Linked DNA regions of Homo sapiens. The protein of the gene in region 1 purifies or fractionates together with the protein of each later gene. This does not show direct contact. Each region holds a gene or a part of one and is shown in the gene's direction. Other genes may lie near its edges.

Evidence for each region.
Region 2: the proteins of THAP4 (region 1) and CPNE7 purify together in Homo sapiens (affinity purification with mass spectrometry; one large-scale study listed by BioGRID and IntAct). This does not show direct contact.
Region 3: the proteins of THAP4 (region 1) and CORO2A purify together in Homo sapiens (affinity purification with mass spectrometry; 2 studies listed by BioGRID and IntAct, with this or other methods). This does not show direct contact.
Region 4: the proteins of THAP4 (region 1) and SERPINB7 purify together in Homo sapiens (affinity purification with mass spectrometry; one large-scale study listed by BioGRID and IntAct). This does not show direct contact.
Region 5: the proteins of THAP4 (region 1) and AIFM1 purify together in Homo sapiens (affinity purification with mass spectrometry; one large-scale study listed by BioGRID and IntAct). This does not show direct contact.

The regions. Positions count from the first base shown.
Region 1 is NC_000002.12:241,588,641-241,592,158, reverse strand, and holds part of THAP4 (peroxynitrite isomerase THAP4), read left to right. Parts: intron 1-3,518. UniProt on the Homo sapiens protein: Heme-binding protein able to scavenge peroxynitrite and to protect free L-tyrosine against peroxynitrite-mediated nitration, by acting as a peroxynitrite isomerase that converts peroxynitrite to nitrate.
Region 2 is NC_000016.10:89,589,255-89,592,772, forward strand, and holds part of CPNE7 (copine-7), read left to right. Parts: intron 1-642; coding exon 643-697; intron 698-1,752; coding exon 1,753-1,804; intron 1,805-1,872; coding exon 1,873-2,006; intron 2,007-2,943; coding exon of another isoform or gene 2,944-2,946; exon of another isoform or gene 2,947-3,518. UniProt on the Homo sapiens protein: Calcium-dependent phospholipid-binding protein that may play a role in calcium-mediated intracellular processes.
Region 3 is NC_000009.12:98,126,638-98,130,155, reverse strand, and holds part of CORO2A (coronin-2A), read left to right. Parts: intron 1-265; coding exon 266-362; intron 363-1,436; coding exon 1,437-1,549; intron 1,550-1,895; coding exon 1,896-1,986; intron 1,987-3,332; coding exon 3,333-3,518.
Region 4 is NC_000018.10:63,778,411-63,781,928, forward strand, and holds part of SERPINB7 (serpin B7), read left to right. Parts: intron 1-3,518. UniProt on the Homo sapiens protein: Might function as an inhibitor of Lys-specific proteases. Might influence the maturation of megakaryocytes via its action as a serpin.
Region 5 is NC_000023.11:130,134,825-130,138,342, reverse strand, and holds part of AIFM1 (apoptosis-inducing factor 1, mitochondrial isoform AIF precursor), read left to right. Parts: intron 1-302; exon of another isoform or gene 303-817; coding exon of another isoform or gene 818-825; exon of another isoform or gene 826-1,157; coding exon 1,158-1,265; intron 1,266-1,611; coding exon 1,612-1,700; intron 1,701-2,157; coding exon 2,158-2,298; intron 2,299-3,518. UniProt on the Homo sapiens protein: Functions both as NADH oxidoreductase and as regulator of apoptosis.

The DNA.
Region 1 (3,518 bases):
GTGGGTGGCTCTGGACCTAGCTTTGCAGCCTGGGCTGCCACCGGTGACCTGCGAGCTTGAGCATCTTTTCACGTCGTTGCTGGGTCATCCTCCAGCGAGGTGCCTGTTCAGGTCTGGTGACCATTTCCACTGTGCCTTTTCTGGCTGACATGTCAGAGTTCTTTATATGATTTGAATAAAGCTCTGTTAGCTAAATGTGTTGCAAATAGCTTTTTCGGTCTGTGATTATCTTTTGAGTTTTACAAATTGTTTTTGAAGAACAGAGGTTCTGGATTTTATGTGGTTCAGTTTGCCAATCTCTTCCTTTATGGATTCTGTTTTTAATGTCTTAGTTAAGCAGTCTTTCCTCACTAACAGGTCAAAATATGTATTCTGAATTTTTCTGGAAGCTTCACAGTTCAACCTAAAATCTTTCCTTTAGGTCATTAATCCACCTGGGGCTGAGTTGTGTGTATAGTGTGAAGTGCTGTCCCCTCTCCTTGTTCTCAGATGAGGGCCAGCTACCCTGCACCCTGCATGAAGAGCCCGGCCCCCCTGTTCACCCATGCAACTGCCCCCTGAGCCCCTCAGTATCCTTCATCAGGGGTCTGCTTCTCACCCTCTCTCTGGTTCCAGGTGGTCTGTTTGTCAGTCCCTGTGCCAATACCACACTGTCTTCATTATCATGGCTTCTACTTTTTAAAAATCACCTCTATTGAGGTATACTTTATATGGAATAAATGCATACACTTCAAGTGTGCAGTTTGATACATTTGGACAAGCATATATAATCTTGTAACGCTGCGCCAGTCAAGACTGAGAACAGTCCCAGCACCCTAGAAAGTCCCCGTGCTCCACAGGCAACCCCCGCTGCCCTCTCAAGCCCCCGGCCTGGTTTCTGCCACTGTAGACCGAGCAGCTCTGAGTGTCCTAGTGCCCATGATCATCAGCCGAGCAGTTCTGAGTGTCCTAGTGCCCATCATCATCAGCCGAGCAGCTCTGAGTGTCCTAGTGCCCATCATCGTCAGCCGGGCAGTTCTGAGTGTCCTAGTGCCCATCATCGTCAGCCTGGCAGTTCTGTCTGTCCTAGTGCCCATCATCATCAGCCGAGCAGCTCTGAGTGTCCTAGTGCCCATCATCGTCAGCCGGGCAGTTCTGTGTGTCCTAGTGCCCATTATTGTCAGCCGAGCAGCTCTGAGTGTCCTAGTGCCCATCATCGTCAGCCGAGCAGCTCTGTGTGTCCTAGTGCCCATCATCGTCAGCCGGGCAGTTCTGTGTGTCCTAGTGCCCATCATCGTCAGCCGGGCAGTTCTGTGTGTCCTAGTGCCCATTATCGTCAGCCGGGCAGCTCTGCGTGTCCTAGTGCCCATTATCATCAGCCGAGCAGCTCTGAGTGTCCTAGTGCCCCTCATCATCAGCCGGGCAGTTCTGAGTGTCCTAGTGCCCATGATCATCAGCCAAGCAGTTCTGTGTGTCCTAGTGCCCATCATCATCAGCCGAGCAGCTCTGAGTGTCCTAGTGCCCATCATCGTCAGCCGGGCAGCTCTGCGTGTCCTAGTGCCCATCATCATCAGCCGAGCAGCTCTGAGTGTCCTAGTGCCCCTCATCATCAGCCGGGCAGTTCTGAGTGTCCTAGTGCCCATCATCAGCCGAGCAGCTCTGTGTGTCCTAGTGCCCATTATCATCAGCCGAGCAGCTCTGAGTGTCCTAGTGCCCATTATCATCAGCCGAGCAGCTCTGCGTGTCCTAGTGCCCATTATCATCAGCCGAGCAGCTCTGAGTGTCCTAGTGCCCCTCATCATCAGCCGGGCAGTTCTGAGTGTCCTAGTGCCCATCATCATCAGCCGGGCAGCTCTGAGTGTCCTAGTGCCCCTCATCATCAGCCGGGCAGCTCTGAGTGTCCTAGTGCCCATTATCATCAGCCGAGCAGCTCTGAGTGTCCTAGTGCCCATTATCATCAGCCGAGCAGCTCTGTGTGTCCTAGTGCCCATTATCATCAGCCGGGCAGCTGAGTGTCCTAGTGCCCATTATCATCAGCCGAGCAGCTCTGAGTGTCCTAGTGCCCATCATCGTCAGCCGAGCAGCTCTGCGTGTCCTAGTGCCCATCATCGTCAGCCGAGCAGCTCTGCGTGTCCTAGTGCCCGTCATCGTCAGCCGAGCAGCTCTGAGTGTCCTAGTGCCCATCATCGTCAGCCGAGCAGCTCTGAGTGTCCTAGTGCCCATCATTATCATCAGTGGAGTCACAGCACACAACTCATTTGTTTCCGGTCTCCTTTCCTCACTGAAACGCTCTCAAGATTCAGCAGTTCTGCTGCATGTGCCACGTCTGCTTGTTGCTGTGTGGTGGTCCACCAGTGAGCTTGTCAGTTTTGTTTATCCTTTCTGTTGATGGATGTTTATTTTATTTGTTTCCAGTTCCGGGCTATTAGGAATAAAGCTGTAAGCATGTGTAGACCTAACTTTGTGTGGACACATGTTTTTTTTCCTCTTGGGTGCATACCTGGGATTGGAACTGCTGGGTTCTGTGGTAAGCACCAATCTCTTCCAGAGTGGCTGTCCCCCTTGACACCCCAGCAAGGTTGTCCCACAGCCTCGCCAAGGGTTGGCCTTTGAGTTTTATCCTGGCCACTACAGGGTGGTATTTTATTGTGATGTTAATTTGCACTTCCCTGCTGAGTAACGATGCTGCTCATCTTTTTGTTGTACTTATTTGCCACTTGTATTTCTTGTTTTGTGAAATGAACATTCAGATTTTTTGCCCATTTGTTTAAGTGTTTGTGTTATTCCTGAGTTGTAAGAGCCTGTTGTTTGTTCTGGGTATAAGTCCTTTATCAGGTGTACTTGCCAACACGATATTCCTATCCTGTGCCTTGCCTTTCTGTTTCCTAGACAGTACCATTTGAAGAACCAAATGTTGTTTTTTTTGGTGGGGGTGGGGGGTTTCTTTTCTTTTTCTTTTTTTTTTTTGAGACATTGTTTGCTCTCGTTGCCCAGGCTGGAATGCAATGGCCTGATCTCAGCTCACTGCAACCTCTACCTCCCAGATTCAAGCGATTATCCTCTCTCAGCCTCCCAAGTAGCTCGGATTACAGGCTCCCACCACCATGGCCGGCTAATTTTTTGTATTTTTAGTAAAGACGGGGTTTCACCATGTTGGCCAGGCCGGTCTCGACCTGACGTCAGGTGATCCACCCTCGTTGGTCTCCCAAAGCGCTGAGATGACAGGCGTGAGCCACCATGCGCAGTCTAGAACCAAATGTTTTAATTCTGTTACCATTTTTTTTCTCTAGTCAGTGCTTTTTGTGTCCTGTCTTAAAATTTTTCACCTAGCCCAGGCAGCAAAGATTTTCACCTGCATTTTCTTCAAGAAGTTTTATAGTTTTAAGATATATGCTATTTGGAATTGCTATTTCTAGATGGTATGAGGTAGTAGTCACGTTTTTTCCATTTTTCCTCATACAGATACCTCGTTTCCAGCACCATTTGTTGAAAAGAGAACCCTTAATTTATTAAAGTATGCAGTGCTTTTGTCGAAAATC
Region 2 (3,518 bases), on another chromosome or scaffold:
GTACTCAAGCCTGGGTGACAGAGCAAGACTCCGTCTCAAAAAAAAGAGACTCTGCGAGGAAGGGCTGGGTAGCCCTACTGGAGGCTGCCGCATAGACTCTGCACATGGTCCTGGGGGGACGTCTGTGTCCCGCTTTGCCAGAATAGCAAACCGAAGTCACAGAGGCTTGGGGCTCACCCGCGTATGCTTTACCAGGGAGGGCCCGGCACAAAACCCTGTGCTCTGAGCTTCTTACCACAACACAGACCCCTGGCCTGGGGCTTGGGAGAGGATGCCCTGAGCTCCCTACCCTACAGACCTCTCTTTCTGGGTTGGTGAGGGCCACAGTGGGTTCCTTGGCCCCACAGGACCCCTCCCGTGGTCTGAGAGCCCCCGGGGAGGCGTCTGCAGGGGGACAGCATGTACACAAACGTGGAGTTGGGAGGCAGGCTCGCGGGCGGCAGGACCGTGTCCCCTTGCACACAGGCCTGTGCCTCTGCTGCCCTGAGCCTCGGTTCCCCACCTCTGGCAGGTGCTTACTGCCGTGGTACCAGGCCTGGGCACCCCCAGTCTTTTGGGCGCCAGTCATGTCTCCCTAGAAGTGGCCCCTGTTGCAGCCACAAGAGGTCAGGGCCTCCTGGTGACCTCCTGCCTCTCTTCCAGTGACAAGAGGTTTTCCGCTTTGGGGTTTGGAGCCCGGATCCCTCCCAAGTATGAGGTAGGAGAGCCCAGAACCTGAGACCTCAGAGCTGTGCCCTTCTCGTGCCCTCCCAGGCAGAGGACGGCCTGGCCCAGGGAGCCCTGGCTGCCTGCTGGGAACCGGAGACTGTAGGATGGGATTGGGGTGCAAAGCGGGAACCCCAGCCTTCTAGCCAGAGAGGCTGGCCTTTGGCCTCCTAGGACTTGTTAGCTTGAGGGGTGTCTGGAGGCCAACTCCGTGTTCCTTCAGGAGATAGGGAAGGACGTTAGTGTGGAATCCTCTATTGCACATAACAATTCAGCTAGCTTCGGCCAGGCGTGGTGGCTCACGCCTGTAATCCCAGCACTTTGGGAGGCCGAGGCGGGCCGATTACCTGAGGTCAGGAGTTCCAGACCAGCCTGGCCATCATGGTGAAACCCCATCTCTACCAAAAATACAAAAATTAGCTGGGCGTGGTGGCACATGCTTGTAATCCCAGCTACTCGGGAGGCTGAAGCAAGAGAATTGCTTGAACCCGGGAGGCAGAGGTTGCACTGAGCTGAGATCGCACCACTGCAGTCCAGCCTGGCCTGTAGAGCAAGACTCTGTTTTAAAAAAGAAAAAAGAAAACAACAAAAAACTTCAACTGGCTTCAGCAGAAAAAATGGTGTGTGGGGATTTATTGGCTAATGTAAGCCTCAGGCACTGCTGGATCCAGGGAGGTCTGCCTCCCTCTCTGTTTCATGACTCTGCAGAACATGGTCACCCATGGGTTTGGCTTCCCCTAGAAACTCCAAGCCTACCTCTCTCAGTAGGTGGGGGACATGGGGGCCAGGTCGGGGGAGCAGCTGACTGGGGGACATGGGGGCCGGGGACGGGGGGAGCAGCTGACTGGGGGACATGGGGGCCGGGGACGGGGGGAGCAGCTGACCGAGCCCTCTTTAGTAGGCGGGGGACATGAGGGCGGGGACGGGGGGAGCAGCTGACTGGGGGACATGGGGGCTGGGGACGGGGGGAGCAGCTGACCGAGGGACATGGGGCCAGTGGGGTGTGTTGCAACGAGCAGCTGACTGAGCCCTCTTGTTCCCACCCAGGTGTCCCATGACTTTGCCATCAATTTCAACCCTGAGGACGATGAGTGTGAAGGTAGGAGCTCGAGGCAGGCCTGGGGAGGGGAGTGCAGGGGGGCCGGGCTCACCCCCTGCCCCCCACAGGCATCCAGGGCGTGGTGGAGGCCTACCAGAACTGCCTGCCCAGGGTCCAGCTCTACGGCCCCACCAACGTGGCGCCCATCATCTCCAAGGTGGCACGCGTGGCGGCGGCCGAGGAGAGCACCGGGAAAGCCTCTGTAGGTGCCCGGGGGGTGTGGTGCATGCTTGGTGTGGGGTCGGCTGTGTGTGCACCAGCGCGTGGACGTCAGGGAGGCACCTGGCAGAGGGAACAGCCAGCGCAGAGGCCCCCAGGCAGGACAGAGCTCAGGAGGGCGGGGGCCCAGCTGGTTGACTACGTCTCCCTCAAAGGTGCAGGTGTCTCGGGCACAGGGCTGTCCATCGCCTCACACGGTCACGGCCATGGCTGCAGCGAGGCTGCCCCTCTCCTCTTCCTCTGGGCACCACAAGGCCGCGCACATGTCTACTGTTTGGCTGTGTGTGTATCGTCATTTTGTTTACATGTGTCTTTCCTTTGCACAAATGATACGGTGCCGAGAACTGCACTGGATTCTACTCTGCCACCGTGTGGCCCTGTATGTGTCTCTGGGGCCACAGCCAGCCTGCTGCTTTCTTTTCTTTTCTTTTGTTTTTTGTGAGACAGAGTCTCACTCTGTCACCCAGGCTGGAGTGCAGTGATGTGATCCCAGCTCACTGCAACCTCTGCTTCCCGGGGTTCACGCCATTCTCCTGCCTCAGCCTCCCAAGGAGCTGGGACTACAGGCGCCCGCCACCACTTCTGGCTAATTTTTGTATTTTTAGTAGAGACGGGGTTTCACCCTGTTGGCCAAGCTGGTCTCAAACTCCTGACCTCATGATCCACCCGCCTCGGCCTCCCAAAGTGCTGGGATTACAGGCGTGAGCCACCGTGCCCGGCATTCTTTTTTTTGTTGTTTTTTTTTTTTGAGACGGAGTCTCGCTCTGTCACCCAGGCTGGAAGTGTAGTGGCGCAATCTCCGCTCACTGCAACCTCCCCCTCCCAGGTTCGCGCCATTCTCCTGCCTCAGCCTCCTAAGTAGCTGGGACTACAGGCGCCCACCATCATGCCCGGCTAATTTTTTTTTTTTGTATTTTTAGTAGAGACGGGGTTTCACCGTGTTAGCGAGGATGGTCTCGATCTCCTGACCTCGTGATCCACCCGCCTCGGCCTCCCAAAGTGCTGGGATTACAGGTGTGAGCCGCCGCGCCCGGCCCAAAATAATTTTAAACTCACCAAAAAGTTACAAGAGCTCTGAGGTCCTGCAACCCGTGAGGCCAACAGCTGCTCACACATTGCGCTCCTGCTTCACGTCTGTGTAGTTGTTGTATTTGTATGTTTTCTTTTTCAATTTTTTTTTTTTTTTTTGAGATAGAGTCCTGCTCTGTCACCCAAGCTGTAGTGGTGCAATCTCGGCTCACTGCAAGCTCCACCCTCCGAGTTCAAGCAATTCTCCTGCCTCAGCCTCCCGAGTAGCTGGGATTACAGGCTCCCGCCACCACGCCCGGCTAATTTTTTGTATTTTTAGTAGAGACGGGGTTTCACAGTCTTGGCCAGGCTGGTCTTAAACTCCTGACCTTGTGATCCACCCGCCTCGGCCTCCCAAAGTGCTGGGATTACAGGAGTGAGCCACCGCGCCCAGCCCAAATTTTTTTTATTGTGATAAAATATGCAC
Region 3 (3,518 bases), on another chromosome or scaffold:
GTGATTGCACTACTGCTCTCCAGCCTGGGCAATAAAGTGAGACCCTGTCTCAAAAAAATAAGATAAAATCTAAAATAAAATGAATATCCCCTCATCACCCTCCTGCCTTGATGACAGGGCCCCCAGTTTCCTGGTGTTCCCTTGAGTGAGATGGGTTTGCCGATCATCAAAAAAAGCCAGGTCTTTGCTGCATGGCTGGGTTGCTGATGAGCTGATGAGCTCCAGCTCTGAATCTCACCCTCCTCTTCCTTCTCCTCCTCCTCAGGGAGATGGCAACATCCGCTACTACGAGGTGAGCGCCGACAAGCCTCACCTGAGCTACCTGACTGAGTACCGCTCCTATAACCCACAGAAGGGGATCGGTAAGTGAGGGACACTGAAGTTCATGCCTGTAATCCCAGCACTTCGGGAGGCCGAGGTGGGAGAATCAGGGTCAGGGCTTCAGTGCGGGGTCTGGGGAGACAGGGATGAGTCAGATGGGAGGAGAGACAGCATAGCAACACTCTGACTTGGTGGGGGCTGTACTTGACGTGTGCAACAGCACAAAGGAGGAAGTCAGGGAAGGCTTCTCAGAGGAGGCAACATTGGAGGAACTGAAAGAGGAAGCAGAGCCCAGCAGGGGAGAGAGGGATGTGTTCTAGGTCAAGGTTAAGCAGTTACCACAAGAGCAGAGATGGAAAGGGCTGACCTAGAAGAGCCTCTAGGAAGCAGTCCTCAGTTCCTTTCTAAGTGTGCTTGAGGATTAAAAACACAGCTATATTTCTGTAATCTACAAGAAACCCACTTTAAACATAAAGACATGGCTAGATTAAAAGTAAGGGACTGGAGAAAGATGCACCCTGCTAACCCTACTCAAAAGGAATCTGGAGCGGTTTGATTAAGAGCATTTGGGTCACAGGAGCTGTGGGGATGGAGATGGGGAACCTTAAGCAGAGCAAACTGCCTATAAAAGTTCAGCTAATCCAGCACTTTGGGAGGCCAAAGCTGGAGGATCACTTGAGCCTAGGAATTCGAGCCTAGCCTGGGCAACAAAGTGAGACTCCTGTCTCTACAAATAAATAAAAAAATTGAGGTGCATACCTGTGGTCCCAGCTACTTGGGACGCTAAGGCAGGAGGATCGCTTGAGCCCAGGAGTGTGAGACTGCGGTGAGCTATGATTGTGCCACTGCACTCCAGCCTGGGCAACAGAGTGAGACCTTGTGTCAAAAAGAAAAAAATTCAGCTAAAATAATTTAAATCTTTGAAGGTGAAGAGTCTGATTAATTCAACTCCATTTCCCAACATAGGGCCCAGCCCAGTGTCGGTATTTGTCCCTGAGCTGTTTTCTGGGAGGAGACTGGTCTCTGTTCAGGTCCAGGTGTGCAGCCTGGCTTTGGCCCTAACACTGTGGCCCCAGCCTAGCCAGAACCTCTTGGCCCTCCCTGTCTGCCTTCAGGTGTCATGCCAAAGAGAGGACTCGACGTGTCCTCCTGCGAGATCTTCCGCTTCTACAAGCTGATCACAACCAAAAGCCTCATCGAGCCCATCTCCATGATTGTGCCCCGGCGGGTAAGGGCAGTCGGGACCGCATGGGAGGCAGGTGGGGAACCTGTCCTGGAGAAGACAGACCCAGGGCTGTCGGGCACCAGAGCCTGGAGCCCACGTTCATGGGGCAGCCACAGAGCGGCCTTTCTCACAGCCAGTGTGACATCAGTGGGCGTCAGGAGTCCTGGGTCTCGGTCCACCTCTGTTCTTGAGCTGCTGCGTGACCTCGGGCAAGTCCCTTTGTTCTCTGGGCCTCAGTTTCCTCAATTCAGCAGGGGTTGGTGAGAGCCTGGACTCCCAGGTCTAAGGGCCTTTCCCATCTGAGCAGCCTACCCTACCACCCTCCTCACTGTCTGGATTTCTCCTGCAGTCAGAATCCTACCAAGAGGACATATACCCTCCAACAGCAGGGGCCCAGCCCTCCCTGACGGCCCAGGAGTGGCTCAGCGGGATGAATCGAGGTGAGGAAGGCAGAGAAGAGGCCCAGGCAAATGTGACAGGAACATGGCGTGCCCAGTGGCCCCAAGCAATTGAGAGGGGTTGGGCCTGGATTTTTCTTCTCTCATGACCTCAGAAGCCATGCCCTTGACCTTCAGTCCCCAGTGGGTAGCATGGTCACATACAGGTCCAGAAAGTCAGGGGGCTTGACCCAAGAGCTCAGAAAACTCCAACTCAAGGGACTTTGCCCCACGGAAAGCTTCTTTACACTCTGGGGCTATGTGGGGTGCCTGGACCACCTCAGCCAGACTCCCTGTCCCTGTTCCCCACCCCTACCTCTGCAATTCTTTTTTTTTTTTTTTTTTTTTTTTTTTTGAGACAGAGTCTCGCTTTGTTGCCCAGGCTGGAGTGCAGTGGTACAATCTCAGCTCACTGCAACCTCCACCCCACCCCCAGGTTCAAGTGATTCTCATGCCTCAGCCTCCTGAGTAGCTGGGACTACAGGCACGTGCCACCATGCCCAGCTAATTTTTCGTATTTTTAGTAGAGATGGGGGTTTTGCCATGTTGGCCAGGCTGGTCTCAAACTCTTGACCTCAAGTGATCCACCTGCCTCGGCCTCCCGAAGTGCTGGGATTACAGGTGCGAGCCACTGGGCCTGGCCTTTTGCAATTCTTCTTGACCCAAGAAGCCCTCCAGGCAGCAACCCCCACCCAGGTCCCTCTGCCCACTCTGCCTGTCCTGAGCCACTCTCCCGCTCCTGCCAACACGGGGGCCAGCCCAGCAGAAGCAGTCACCCCAGCTGCTCCCTCTCCCTTCCACCCCCACAAACTTCCTTCACCCCCACCCCAGTGGCTGAGCGGGCCTCCTGGTGTACTGGAAGAGCCTCTGCCTTGGGGGGCAGCGGACCAGGGCCGAGTCCTAGTTTTGGATAACCTTAAGTAGGTTTTGCTCCCTGGGCCTCAGTTTCCTCATCTGTAGCCATGATGCCAGCCTCCCCTGCTTTCTGGAGGTGGTGAGAGAACTAATGAACTTGGTAGATGGTGGGGTGCAGTGTGGGTGGGACTGTCCTTACAAAGCAAGGGCAAGGTCTCATGTGAGTTTGAAGTGTTTGGGGGCTGCTTCAGTGCACGCACCGTGCTGTTCCTACAAACCAAGCTTCACTCTGAGGGTGGCACACGTGGGTATTTGTATCTGTTAGCCCTGCTCTGTGGGTTTGGGCCTGTCCACAGGTAGCTGTATTTCCCACACATGTTGCATGGGTCTGCATGGCTCTGAGTGTCTCTGCATGCCTGCCTGTGTCATTGGTGCCCCATATGCCCATCTTCCCGTGGGCACCCCGTCCTCACATGGCTCTGCTTCCCTTCCAGACCCAATCCTGGTGTCCCTTAGGCCTGGCTCTGAGCTGCTGAGACCCCACCCACTGCCTGCAGAGAGACCTATCTTCAATTCCATGGCCCCAGCCTCACCCCGGCTCTTGAATCAGACAGAAAAGCTGGCTGCAGAAGATGGCTGGAGGTCTTCCTCCCTGTTGGAGGAGAAGATGCCAAGGTGGG
Region 4 (3,518 bases), on another chromosome or scaffold:
TATATGTATATCCTAATTCAGTAAATATAAAAGCTTTTTTAAAAAATAATGTGTCATGAACTATAATTAATTTTCTATATACAGGCAAAAGTATCCTAAGACTAGATAATACTTTTATCAAGCATTTAAGGCACATAATTTATCAGTTAGGTGTAATAAGTTTAGGTCCATAAAATAGTATCATAACTTTATGTTTTATTGAATGTGTTTTGTGCCTGAATTTTCTTATGCTTTATTTAAAAACTACTTTTTGCTTTTTATTAAACTTTAAAAAGAAGGTTTAGTGAGAAAATATCTATTTTTATTGTTGTTTTGATGCTAATAATATATTAGCTAAAGGATGAAAGGGATAAAAAAGTTCTCAGATTGAAATAGACCATAAGGAATCAAATAGGCTTCAGGCTGCCATGGACTTTTAGACCCTCAAGTCTGAAGTTTGGGATGTAAAAACATCCATGAGTACGTGCTAATTTGTGTTAACTTTAAAATTATAAATTAATTGCATGCTTGTTTGTTAAGCTAAAATATTTATGCAAGAAACATAAGAATATAGTATATTTTTAGCAAAATGAAAAATCAGACTTTAAAACCAAGTTCTTTTATGATTTGAAAAGAACTTTCCTGCATTGCCATGTCCAGACAATGAAATACTGGGTGGTGTCACACTGACATCTTCTTTAGGTAGCTTTAATGTGGTTGTTTTCCTTTTCAATTTCCTTAGTTATTTAACTGGGACTCAAGTCAATTGGTAGCTGTTGGTGGCTGTTGGTGGCTTGCCTGAACTTAGTTTATTTTTGTTAATGTTTTATCTATTTAAGTTGCTTTGAAAGTATTTATAGGGAAAGGAAAAATCACAGTTTTGGTCTCATGCTAATTTTTATTTATGTGTCACCTGATGAAAACTTGGAGGTATAAAACAATCAGTTCAGTCTTAAATATAATTGTTTATTTGCCAATAAGAATCAGACTTTATATCAGAAGAGGAGAAACAAATCTTACTTTTATTCCTGGAACTTAAACAGTGCACCTGCATAGAGAAAGATAATAAAAATAATTATGTGAAATGGAACATACTTTTTGGTATTTATTTTAAGCATACATGAACATGTCTGTACAAGAATGTTAAAGTATATGCTAGTTAGTATCACCTATCATTTTAAGAGTTATGACTTGAGAATTCATAATTATCTAGGAATGTCTTGGCTCATGTTTCTCTGTCGTGATTTTTTTTTTCTAGTATGGTTTCTCTGCCATAAAACTTACCTAAGCTAAACATTTATGTACTCTGTATCCTGAATGAATACATTCTTGTGTAGCTTCTCTTTTGTTCAATAAGATTATAATTTCATCAATAATTTACCATGGAAATAGGAAGCCTGAAATTTTAGAAAATGAAAATTTGTGATTGGTGCTTAGAAAGTAATTAAAGAATACTATTCAAAAGTATAATTTTTTTTTGCCCCAAAGGATAAAATAGTAAGGCATAATTTGTAAAACAACAAGAAGAATTGGAACTTGAACAAAGAAAAATGTATCTTAAAGTATATTTTTGCACTTTGGGAAATGATAGCTTCCAGACCCCCATTGGCCCGTGCAAGCAGGTTTCTAAACAGGGTCATTTAAAAACCTTTCAGGTCTTATTTTAAAAACTCTAACTCACATTTTATGAAAACATTAAAATACACCCAATCTTCTATTAAATATATTTTTCACTGTAAATACTTTGAAAGGATTAATATGACTTTGCTTTTGAAGTTACTTTCCCAAGAACAATTCATTTCATTTACTACTGTCTGATTTTCGGCAACCAGCATGAAGCCTTGGAAATTCTTTAGGATGGAGAGAATCTAGCACACAATTTCCTTCTAAAATTAATGAAATTCTTATGAATACTAAATAGAAAAATCAGCATAGATTTCATTTTCATATATTTAATTGTAAACTTGTTAATTTTGATCTTATTTTTTCATATTTTAGAAGGAATACTTATCTTTAGGTCAAAAATATGAATTGAATCCCTTAAACATTTGAGGGCCTTTAGCACTGCTAGTATCACTCACTGTATAAAGCTGCCCTTTTCCTGCCAACTCGCATCCTGTATACCTAGTCCTAACTTTCATTGTTTCTCGTCTCCTTTGTTGCAAAGAGTTTCTCCTGTAGCTTTAATCACAATTGCCACAACTTTTTACCCGGGATTGCTTGGATTAGATATAAAATCAACATACATTTTTTTCTGGGTAACTTTTGAAAGAACATAGGTGTTCTTTCTTAGAGTAAAGATATGTGGGGTGTGAATGATTTTCTCACCTTATGTGCCTAGGGTGTAACTGAGGAGTATGACTTATAACGAATTCTATATAGCTGAATTTGACCCTGAAAAACAGCATCATGTAGGGTGTCATGCCTCAGTGGTGTTCTCTGTGCTTGGAATTCCAAAGAGCAGAGTATGGGTCCCTCAGGGACATTCTTTCTGGAAATGTTTGCTGTCTTTTAGGACAGAACAGGCTATTACCACTTCACAGAGAATAGTAAATGCAGCAGCTTCAACTCATTGAACGTCTACTCTGGATCATGCATTGTACTAGAAAAGTTTTTTTTTAATTTTTTAACTCAAACTCCCATTTGACATAATAAAAGTTAAAAAACTTATTTTAATTTCATTTACAATTTTAAAAGGCCTTAAGTATTTGCAACTGTGACAAAGCCAACACAATGGCAATTTTAGAATGTTCTTCTTTCAGACTGCATGGCTCTCCCTCCTTGTGACCCCCTTCCTCACCCACAACATGCCAGTCCCCAGATGCCTATGTGTGCTCTTCTTATGGAGCAAAAGGTACAAGGAAGCATGATTTTCTGTTGAGAATCGCTATGCTAGATCCTGTACATAGATCATCTCACTGAACAAGATGAAACTTAGAAGTTCAGAGAAATTAAAGACTTGACCCAGTTCACACAACTATTAGCAACAGGGTTGAGACTTGGATGAAGTCCCCTAAGGGTTTGTGACTCCTGGCATCTGCAACACCTGGCACCTGCCACACCATCAGATGTAATATCATTGGACATTCATGAGGAATAATTTGGAGAATTCATGTAAGTTCATGTAGTCTGAGACAACCCCAACTGCTATTTTGAGATCAATTTGAGTTGAGGAGAAATTCTGCAAAAAAAATTACCCAAGTGGATCCCTGAAGAATTCCATGGTGGTAGCAACCGTCTGTATTGCAGAAACAACATCATGAATTTGAAGATAATCTCCACTTTGTTACTGCACCCTGGGTTCTCTAGGAAGAAATAGGCCTATGTGTTGAAAAGTCTTGTACATGTTCTTGATACATACTCTGATAATCACACTTTGCATTCCAAAAAAATCAGAAAATGGTTTTAAACAAATTAATGCACTTATGGGACCAATGATGCATAATACTTAAAATTAGGACAGTTTTGAAAAAAAATAGAATGTATGATTGTTCTAAGAATTTACAGAGGCCTTAATGGAAAGAATGGGTTAAAAATGA
Region 5 (3,518 bases), on another chromosome or scaffold:
CAGGCGCCTGTAACCACGCCTGGCTAATTTTTTGTATTTTTAGTAGAGATGGGGTTTCACCGTGTTAGCCAGGACTGTCTCGATCTCCTGACCTGGTGATCCGCCCACCTTGGCCTCCCAAAGTGCTGGGATTACAGGCGTGAGCCACCACACCCAGCCTAATTAAGGTTTATATAGTGAAAAGCTAAACACTGAGATTAGTTCTGGTGAGGGATCCCTTGGTGACCAAAAAGCTGTCACCTGAGCAACTTAACAGCGATGCTTTTTTTTTTTTTTTTTTGAGATGGAGTTTCACTCTTGTTGCCCAGGCTGGAGTGCAATGGTGTGATCTCTGCTCACCACAACCTCCGCCTCCCAGGTTCAAGCGATTCTCCTGTCTCAGCCTCTGGAGTAGCTGGGATTACAGGCATGCACCACCACACCTGGCTAATTTTGTATTTTTGGTAGAGACAGGGTTTCTCCATGTTGGTCAGGCTGGTCTTGAACTCCCAACCTCAGGTGATCCACCCACCTCGGCCACCCAAAGTGCTGGGATTATAGGTGTGAGTCACTGCACCTGGCCAACAGCAATACTTTCTTTCCTTTCTTTTCCTCTACCCTCTATGCCAGGACTCCTTAGAAATAAAATATTAAGGAAAGTGAGTTATGAAGATGATAAGGGCAATGCAGACTACAGAATTATGGGTGTCTTTGAACTGCTGCTTCCTGTAAAATGCCAAAAACTTCTTTGGGCACATGATGGTTCCCAGCTTGAGAGATCTGTGAGCTCCAGTTGGAATGTTTCATGGCAACTAGTTTTCTTAATGTTCTTTTTCAGATATATGAAATCAGGGCATCTTTTCAGGAGGATGCTTCCTATTCAGAGGTTGCAAAGCACTTATGTAAGCCTTAGGTGACTGCATGGGTGGAAGTGCACAGAGTTCACCATCTGAAGCTTAATCTGGGGCCAGCAGTTCTGATACCTGTTGTATTTGCGTTACAAATGAACTTGAGCACCGAGGCCCTCATGCCCACTGTCCTGTAAGTGGGCGCTCGGCCTGGATTGCAGCTCTGCCCTGTCTGTAGTGAGGGCTGCCTGCTGCTCCTTTACTTCTCTTCCTGTATTCCTAGGATTGACTTTTGCTTCCTGCTGTAACTACTCTGTTTCTTCTTCCCAGCTCGAGCCTTGGGCACAGAAGTGATTCAACTCTTCCCCGAGAAAGGAAATATGGGAAAGATCCTCCCCGAATACCTCAGCAACTGGACCATGGAAAAAGTCAGACGAGGTAGAGAGACTGTTTCTATATGCTGCCACTCTATTTCCTTTGAGTGTGACCTAAGGCAAACTTCGCTTCTATAGGAACCCCCTTGACATAAGCCCTATCACCTGGCCTGTAAAATGTTTCCACCATTCTCCAGTCAGCTAAGTTCATCTAGGTGTTCTGAATCAGATGCCCCAAATTCCTGGAAGTGCTGAAAATGAACCATGGGTGTAGGTTCTTGCAGCTCTCCAAAACTGCCTGTGTACTGATAATTGGTTTTACCGTGGAGGAGACCGCTGGTCAGCTTTCCTACTTCCCATGAAAGTGATAGCCTTGTAGGCTCACTCTCAGGTCTTGTTTGCCTTTACAGAGGGGGTTAAGGTGATGCCCAATGCTATTGTGCAATCCGTTGGAGTCAGCAGTGGCAAGTTACTTATCAAGCTGAAAGACGGCAGGAAGGTAAGGAAGGAAAAGATAGTCTGCCAAGAGGCCTTCCAGTTCTCCACTCCCCTTGCCTCATTTTTACTCCTTCATTTGACACCAGTAGATTAGTTTTCCTGGCAGTTGCCATTAACCTGATATAATTTTCCGAATTAACCATCCCTCCATTAAAACAGAATGATGAGAGCCAGAGTAGGCTCCTGTGAACCACTTTCCCTTAGCCCCATTCTATCTGTCTCACAGAGTTTTGAGTCCTGGCTAGGGTGGCAGATTTCTGTTCGAATGACATGGGGGATGTGCATGGGATGGGGTGGTGGAGGCTTATGAAATAGAACTTAAAATCCATTTATCAGAGGTAAGTTAACCCATGATTTTTTAAAGTCCCAATTCTTAATGGCATGAAGGGCCATTGTTACGCCTGTAGGCATAAATGGAAACTGTGGTAATTGACTGAATTATTTCTTTTTTGCCTCAGGTAGAAACTGACCACATAGTGGCAGCTGTGGGCCTGGAGCCCAATGTTGAGTTGGCCAAGACTGGTGGCCTGGAAATAGACTCAGATTTTGGTGGCTTCCGGGTAAATGCAGAGCTACAAGCACGCTCTAACATCTGGGTGGTAAGTGTGCTACAGCATGACCAGGCATAATTCATTCTCCCTAGCCTGTGAACAAGTCTGCCCGGTGGTGTGCTAAAGCTCATCAACAGCCTAACCAAATAGGGTCAGAGTGTTTGGAGGCTGAGGGTACAGAATAGAAATGTGTGAACTGCTTGATTCAGAAGACCAGGTATGGCCTCATCTGCAAGCTAGTGGCAGATGAAATGAACAGTGTGCATGCCTGCAGGGGTAGAGCTCTTCCGGTTCTACTTATTGGCAGCAGCTACTGGCATAACCCCTGGTGGGCATGCACATAAGCCTTCAGATGGATCTGCTGTTCCCTTTGCTCAAACTTGAATCCGGAGGATGGAGGATGAAGCAATGTTATAACCTGTTCCCTAGAAAGGAAAATTACTCTGTTTTCATTTTCCTTGAGTACTATTTTTAGCTGTTTTTTACAATCTATTATGACATAAACAAGACTATAGTATGTAGGAACCATGAGGTAATTTCCCCATTGCTAGTTACAAGTGTATTGTGTTTGTTTATGGACTCTGCAACTAAGGACGTAGGTACCTTGGAGGAATTTTTTTCCCCCTCCAAACCTTGTTTTTTTTTTTTTTTTTAAAAAAAAAAAGATGTACTGGATCTTTTTAACCTGTTATAAAAGTAATACGTGGGCCAGGAGAAGTGGCTTACACCTGTAATCCCAGCACTTTGGGAGGCTGAGGCAGGTGGATCACTTGAGATCAGGAGTTTGAGACCAGCCTGGCTAACATGGTGAAACCCTGTCTCTCCTAAAAATACAAAAATTAGCCGGGTGTGGTGGCACAGGCCTGTAATCCCAGCTACTTGGGAGGCTGAGTGAGGCAGGAGAATCACTTGAACTAAGGAGGCAGAGGCTGCAGTGAGTGGAGATCATGCCACTGCCCTCCAGCCTGGGCAACAACAGAGCAAGACTCAGTCTCAAAAAAAAAAAAAAAGTAATATGTGGTCAATGTAGAAGACAGACAAGAAGGAGAGAGGAGAGGAAAGTCACCTGCAGCAACCATTAATATTTTGGTGTATTTCCTTCCCTGTGTTTCCTTGCATGTAGGTTTTATTGTTGGTTTGTTTTATTCGTGGCAAGCATACTATATATAATATTCTGCTCTTTTCCACTTAACACCATAAATGTAAGCATTTTCTATGTTGCTTCAGACTTTGTAAACAGTTTAATGACTATATATTCCATTAAGCGA